Homo sapiens: one gene and its partner. The protein of the gene in region 2 purifies or fractionates together with the protein of the main gene of each other region. This does not show direct contact. Each region holds a gene or a part of one and is shown on either strand. Other genes may lie near its edges. The genes, in order: PRTFDC1 and STPG1.

The links.
Region 1: the proteins of STPG1 (region 2) and PRTFDC1 purify together in Homo sapiens (affinity purification with mass spectrometry; one large-scale study listed by BioGRID and IntAct). This does not show direct contact.

The regions. Positions count from the first base shown.
Region 1 is NC_000010.11:24,851,584-24,855,407, reverse strand, and holds part of PRTFDC1 (phosphoribosyltransferase domain-containing protein 1), read left to right. Parts: intron 1-43; coding exon 44-90; intron 91-3,824. UniProt on the Homo sapiens protein: Has low, barely detectable phosphoribosyltransferase activity (in vitro). Binds GMP, IMP and alpha-D-5-phosphoribosyl 1-pyrophosphate (PRPP). Is not expected to contribute to purine metabolism or GMP salvage.
Region 2 is NC_000001.11:24,407,232-24,411,055, forward strand, and holds part of STPG1 (O(6)-methylguanine-induced apoptosis 2), read right to left. Parts: intron 1-3,824. UniProt on the Homo sapiens protein: May positively contribute to the induction of apoptosis triggered by O(6)-methylguanine.

The DNA of each region.
Region 1 (3,824 bases), on a different chromosome or scaffold from region 2:
AGATTTGATTGGGTTCACTAAAGCATGTCTTTTTTAATGGTAGTTTGTTGGTGAAGAGAACATCCAGAAGTGACGGCTTTAGACCTGACTGTAAGTGTTTTTCAGTTTTTTGTTTGTTTGTTTGTTTGTTTTGTGCTTATGGTGTTTCATTTTATGTTTAAGAATCTTTGGTTTCCTATTTGACAGCATTGCATGTGGATTTGAAACTGTGTAGGGCTGATAGTCCCACGGATTCCTCATGATCTCCCCCACCTTGATAGGGAAAACAGAACCCTTCAAAATGAGGGTCTTCAATGTTCTAATTTGCATCTTTCACAGGAACTCTGTTCCGTGCATTGGGTATTTTTATTTGTATGTTTCACACAGCACCTTAACTACAGAGAAGTCAGCTGAAAAGTTTCAGGGAGTAGAGGAAGACCTGATCCCGCTGGACTGACTCAGACACATAGGATCCCCGCCTTGGCCTCTATTCTCACCAGTCAGACAAGGAGAGGTGCTATGGAGGTTTAGAGGGATTCTTATGCCATCATCCGGAACTATTACCAGACAACGCACAATGGTGACCTTTAGCAAGCCTGAATTGTAACGCACAGAAGGGGAAATCTAAGACAGCTCCCCTTCACCTCCAAACCAAAGCTCCGTAACACAGAGAATTAGCAGAGCAGGTATCTCTAGATACCATCTTCACACTTGACTTCAGATGTGTGTTCTCTAGGGCTTCCTCATCTAGGACACTCTCCTCCCTTCTCCCCATAATAAGCCTAGTTCTAACACCAAGAAGGATAAACACGCAGCCTAATTATTTATTATTCTAACACTAGAGGCGATTTTTTTTCACTTGCATAGGCAGACTTCAGCTTGATTTTTATAACTTACATTTGCTCCAAAGCTCCTGGGATAATTTGGCTACAGTTCTCTTCAGCAAGCTGAACAAACATTAGCGAAAGAGAAGTGCAGTATGGATGGGTGACATGCCAGCGACATTTAGCCAGTGACTCTACATTCTGAAAACAAGTTTCATGCCTGTGCTGGATGTGTTAACTCTGGACCATGTCAGTTCTGGGCAGAGAGACCCAATCGCATGTTCTCATCTATTACTATTATCAAAGGTATAATCTGGATGTAGTCAAGGTTGCATGCGGTTACTAAGCAGAAATTGTCTAAGGAAATAGTACAGGATACTCAGTGTATAAATAAGATTTTAACTGAAGTTGAAAAACATTCACTTCAATGACAAATTTCTTATATCACTTATAATAACAGCAATAAAATAATAGCAGCTAACACTAGGAAGAGGTCGTGATGTGCCATGCACTATTCTAAGAGCTATACAGAGATTAGCTCATTTCATCCACACAATAGCTCTCTAAAGGTAGGAGCTGTTGTTGTACCTATTTTACAGATGAGGAAATTGAGCACAGCAAGCTTAAATAGCTTGCCAAAGTCATGTAGCCATGAGTGTCAGGCCAATATTAAGCCCAGGCAATCTGGTTTCAGTCACTGCCCTGACTCTTCCACTACATCTGCAAGTAACATCTGCTATTGCAAATGTAAGTGTAGGAGCTGCCTGCATTTACCAGCTAAGGATAGGTCACTCTGATTCATGATTGTCCTGCTGATCCATCATCCTTTTATTCTATGACATCTCAAGTTTTGGCCTTCTAAATAGGCTTTGGGCTCTCATTTTCCCAGTGTGAGTTGCCCTGCCTAATGGAAGGATTGCATTGCTCCCTATAAAGTCATTATTATAACCCTGGTTACAAACAGGGTTTCTTGGGATTTGCTCATATTATTATTATTATTATTTGAGACGGAATCTGACTCTGTCGCCCAGTGCAGTGGCGTGATCTTGGCTCACTGCAACTTCTGCCTCCCAGGTTCAAGTGATTCTCCTGCCTCAGCCTCCCAAGTAGCTGGGACTACAGGTACCACCACACCTGGCTAATTTTTGTATTTTTAGTAGAGATGGGGTTTCACCATGTTGGCCAGGCTGGTCTTGGACTCCTGACCTCAGGTGATCCACCCACCTAAGCCTCTCAAAGTGCTGGGATTACAGGCGTGAGCCACTGCACCTTACCTTTTTTTTTTCTTTTTGAGATGGGATCTCACTTTGTTGCCTAGGCTGGTCTCAAACTCCTGGCCTCGAATGATCTTCCTGCCTCAGCCTCTTGAATAGCTGGGACTGCAGGTGCGCACCCGGCTTCATATTCTTTTAGCTAGCTCAGAATCTCTGTTCCTTCTTTCTCTCTGGATTTATGAGGCTTTGTACTTTGCGTTCCTTTCTCCTGATTGATTCTTTCTTTTCTCCTCAATGTAACTTCTGACCTCTTCTGCTCTTGCTTCTCCTCTCTTACTCTTTTTTTCAAGAAACTCTGCAGTTTGGAGGAATCAAGCAGGCTTCCTAGCAAGGGACTCCATAATGCAACCCCCTAGAAAATAAGTCCCTCACCTCTAGTACTTATTTTCCTAGCAAGGGACTCCATAATGTAACCCCCTAGAAAATAAGTACCTCCAGTACTTTCTATGAGCATGAACCAGTCGTTTTCTTCTTGTGAAAGCATCGTTGGTCATAGTCACTGTGGAGATGACTTTGCCCAGGCTATAAGCCCACTGGCTGTACCCAAGTACACTTCCATTAAAAGTAAGCAAATAAATCTCTCATCTATAATACTGTAATAAACAAACCTGTAAGATTCCAAAACACTGAAACAAGTTTGAAAATCACTGGACCAGTGCACCTTTATTCTGTTTCAAGACTTCTGAAGAAGGAGAGCTATTGTCTGTTCCTTAAGAATTCTCTCCAATAAGTATTAGCCAGGCGTAGTTTTGCATGCCTGTAGTCCCAGCTACTCAGGAGGCTGAGGTGAGAGGATCTCCTGAGCCTGTGGAGGTAGAGGCTGCCGTGAGCCATGATCACACGCCTGGACAACAGAGTGAGATCCTTTCTCAAAAAATAGCCAGGTTCAGTGGCCCATGCCTGTAATCCCAGCACTTTGGGAGACTGAGGCGGATGGATCACTTGAGGTCAAGAGTTCGAGACTGGCCTGGCCAACATGGTGAAACCCCATCTCTACTAAAACTACAAAAATTAGCCTGGCATGGTGGCACACGTCTGTCTTCCCAGCTACTCGGGAAACTGAGGCAGGAGAATGGCTTGAACCCTGGTGGTGGAGGCTGCAGTAAGCCAAGATCGCGAGACTCGGTCTCAGAAAAAAAAAAAGAATCCTTTCTGACAAAAAATCATCATCTTTTCAATGAATCTTCTTTTGCTTTTCATAAGTACCTTGCACTGTGCTTAAATCCATTTCCTCTCATTCTGCCCTCAGTAGGGAGCTCATTAATATCCTCTGCATCATGAACCCAAAGACCAGCATTAATGCAACCTCCACATTCTCTTCCTCAAGTTGAACAATCCCGTTGCCTTTCATCTTGTGTCCTGGCTTTTGCTTTCCAGCCCTTTAAACAGCCAAGACACTGAGTACAGCGGGAGAATTGCTTTCTAGTTGCTGTGGCCCGCGCACCTGTTCACATAATGCAGCGTCGTAACGCCTTCTGCTTGAACTTTCCTTTGTGTTGTTGAGAGTGTTTCCTTTGGCATCGTATCACTGCATACTGCTTGCTTTAGAACACCAGGGCCACGTGACTCAATTATGCATATTTCTTGTTATGCACCAGGCTTCCTGAGCCCTTTCTCAACTCTGTATGCTAGATCAGTCATTCTTCATTGTAGGTTGGCTTGTTTGCCTTGCCTCCTTCCTCCCGAGTAGTCCTTCGGGTCCAGGTCCCTCTTGGGCTCATCGTGTGCATTTCTCACCATTTCTCAC
Region 2 (3,824 bases):
CTACAGTTTTCACCAAATTTGGAAAATATTCAGCCATTATTTTTTCAAATAGTTTTTCTGCCTCTGCCACCTTCTTTCCTGGGGCTACAGTTATATTAGATCATTTCATATTTTCCCAAAGGTTATTGATATTCTGTTCAATATTTTTAAGTCTCTTTTCTCTCTGTCCTTCATTTGGGTAGTCTATATTGTCATGTCTTCAAGTTCACTGATTTTTTTTTTTTTTTTTTGACGGAGTCCCGCTCTGTCACCCAGGCTGGATTGCAGTGGCGCAATCTCGGCTCACTGCACCCTCTGCCCCCAGCTTCAAGCAATTCTCTGTGTCAGCCTCCCGAGTAGCTGGGTACAGGTGCCTGCCACCATGCCTGGCTAATTTTTGTATTTTTAGTAGACACGGGGTTTCACCATCTTGGCCAGGCTGGTCTTGAACTCTTGACCTTGTGATCTACCTGCCTTGGCCTCCCAAAGTGCTGGGATTACAGGCATGAGCCACCATGCCCGGCCAAGTTCACTGATCTTCTGAAGTCTCATCAGCTGCAAATCCCATCCATTGCATTCTTATTTCAAATATTGTATTTTTTCTTTCTAGAGGTTACATTTGGGCTCTTTTTCTATGTCTTCTATTTCTAGCCTCATCATGTTCAGTTTCCTTTACATCCTTAGGAATATTTGTAAGATTCATAGTAGCTGCTTTAAGGTTTCTTTGTACTAATTCTATAATCTGTCATTTTTAAGTCTGTTCCTATTGGTTGATTTTCCTCTCAGATATGGGTCATATTTTCCTTTTCATGTCTGGTAATTTTGTATTAGATATTGGACATTTTGAATTTTACATTGCTGGGTGCTGGGTTTTGATATATTCCTGCAAAGGATGTGGCACACTTTTCAGTAACTTGTAGATCCATCTGACCCTTTCAAGCTTTTAAACTTTGTTATGGCAAGTCCAGAGCAGCTTTTATTCTGGGAATAATTTATCCCCACTACTAAGGCATGACATTTCTGTGAACTCTACCCAATTCCTATCTAATACCATGTCTCTGCATTCTGGTTTATGGTAACATGCAACATTCCCAGTTCTGTTTAAGCCCCAGAAATTGTTCAGCCTATGGCCTTTTGATGGGTATTTCCCCAGTCTTAGTTTCTTCTCATGCATGTGCAGATTACTGCTCAGCCAAAAACTTAAGGAGACCTCTCTTCAGGTTTCTGAACATTTTTGGTGCAGCTCCTTCCTTTAGGGTTCTCCCTATAAATTCTAGCCTCTTTGGCCTCTCTGAATTCTTATTTTTATCTTCTCAACTCAGAAATCTAGAATTCATTTGGATTTCCTACAATATGGCCTAAAAACTGACCCCAGTACTAAATGGGGGCAATTGTAGGACTCACCGTGTTTTTCTTCCTTCAGGGATTATTGTACTGTGCCTGTTGTCCAATGTGAGTTGTTTAACACATTTAACTACTTTTTAGTTGTTAATAGCAAGGGCACAATTTAATTTCCATAGCAATTATTTTTTATTAGCAGACTTGGGTTTCATTTTGCCCATTTTTTTCCCTAAGGAACTTATACCATTTATATATACTAATGAGTAAAGGATTGAATAAATGATTTTACACTCTACTGGTCCTTTTCCATGCAGTATTTTTCCTTACTTTATTCTGTAATCCTCACAGCAGCAATTTTCAACTTTTTTTTGGTGGACAATCTATACTAAAAATTTGATATTTAATAGAATTATTGACAACATTCTTCAAGAAATTAAGAGATTCAAAATAACAGAAACAAATCAATAATGATCAAAGCACAATCACCAATCCAGCTTAACAAGGTCTTTTAGTATCTATAAAAGCAGCCCCTAGGGCTGGGTGTGGTGGGTCACTCCTGTAATCCCAGCACTTTGGGAGGCCGAGGTTAGGCGATAGCTTGAGCTCATGACCAGCCTGGGAAACATGGTGAAAGTCCGTCTCTACAAAAAATATAAAAATTAACCAGGCATGGTGGCATGTGCCTGTAGTCCCAGCTACCTTAGGGGCTGGGGCAGGAGGATCACTTGAGCCCAAGAGGTCAAGGCTGCAGTAAGCTATGTTCGTGCCACTGTTCTTCAGCCTGGGTGACAAAGTGAGACCCTGTCTCAAAAAATAACCAAAGCAGCCACTATTCATTTACCACCCCTCAGTGTTATACCATTTTAGTAAGAACCATCTACTGCCCTAGCTTTAATAAAGCTGTTATTAAAAAATGTATTAGTGTTCTGGAATTATGAGTGATTAGAAAAATATTAAGCTTCCTGTTTTACAGTAGTCCACCCTTGTCTGTAGCTTTATTTTCCAGTTTCAGTTACCCATGGTCAATTGTGGTTTGAAAATATTAAATGGAAAATTCCAGAAATAAATAATTCATCAGCTTTAAATTATGCACCATTCTGAGGCATGTGATGAAATCTCCTATCGTCTGACTCCACCCTACCTGGGATGTGAATCATCCTTGTCCAGCACATTCAAGCTGTATTTGCTACCCCACCATTAGTCACTTAGTAGCCATCTCGATTGTCAGATCCACCATCACGTTGTCTCAGTGCTTGTGTTCAAGTAACTCTTACTTTACTTAATAATGGCCCCAAAGCACAAGAGTAGTGATGCCAGCACTTTGGACATGCCAAAGACAAGCTGTAAAGTGCCTCCTTTATGTGAAAAGGTGAAAGTTCTTGACTTAATAAGGCAAGAAAAAAACTGTATTCTGAGGTTGCTAAGATCTACAGTAAGAATAAAACTTCTATCCATCAAATTTCAAAGGGGAAAAAAATTGGTGCTAGTTTTGGTGCTTCACCTCAAACTATAAAAAGCTGTTGCCACAGAGCATGATAAGTGCTTAGTTAAGATGGAAAAAGCATTAAATTTGTGAGTGGAAGATATGAACAGAAACAGTCTGATTGACAGTAATCAGTTTGGGTATTATCCACTGTTTCACTGGCATCTACTGGTGGTCTTGGAACATATCCCCCTTGAATAAGGGAGGACTACTATAATAATAATGTATGTACACTGTCAACATTTAAGAAAATATGATAAATTACAAAAAAACTTTAAACAATCTGCAATCCATGGCCGAGCGCTGTGGCTCACACCTGTAATCCCAGCACTTTGCGAGGCCGAGGTGGGCGGATCATGAGGTCAGGAGATCCAGACCATCCTGGCTAACACAGTGAAACCCCATGTCTACTAAAAATACAAAAATTAGCTGGACATGGTGGCGTGCACCTGTAGTCCCAGCTACTCAGGAGACTGATGCAGGAGAATCGCTTGAACCCAGGAGGTGAAGATTGCAGTGAGCCAAGATCGCGCCACCGCACTCCAGCCTGGGCAACAGAGCGAGACTCCGTCTCAAAACAAACAAACAAACAAATAAAAAACAATCCCCAATCCTACCACCAAAAGACCACACTGTTAATAATGCTTTCCAGTCTTCTCACTGCATACCTGTGAAGGCAGGATGAGAGCAGGTGCAGGACAGATGTGAACAGAGCACTGCCCAGGTGTGCCTCACTGGTCCACCTGTATAACTGTCCATGACAGGATGGCATGGACCTAGAATCTAAGAAAGAGCAGTGAAGATATACCACTTTCCGAATCAACAACATATGTTTAAGCGATTCCTACGTGGGGGCCAGCGCAGCAGTCCAGAGTATCCAGTCCTGGGTTCAAGGTTATGGCCTGCCACTTAATAGCTCTGATTCTCGATGAGTCACTTAAACTTCTGAGCCTATTTCCTCCTCCATAAACTGGGAGTGATAACAGTACCTTCCTCTTAGGCTGATCCATGTGAAGTGGTT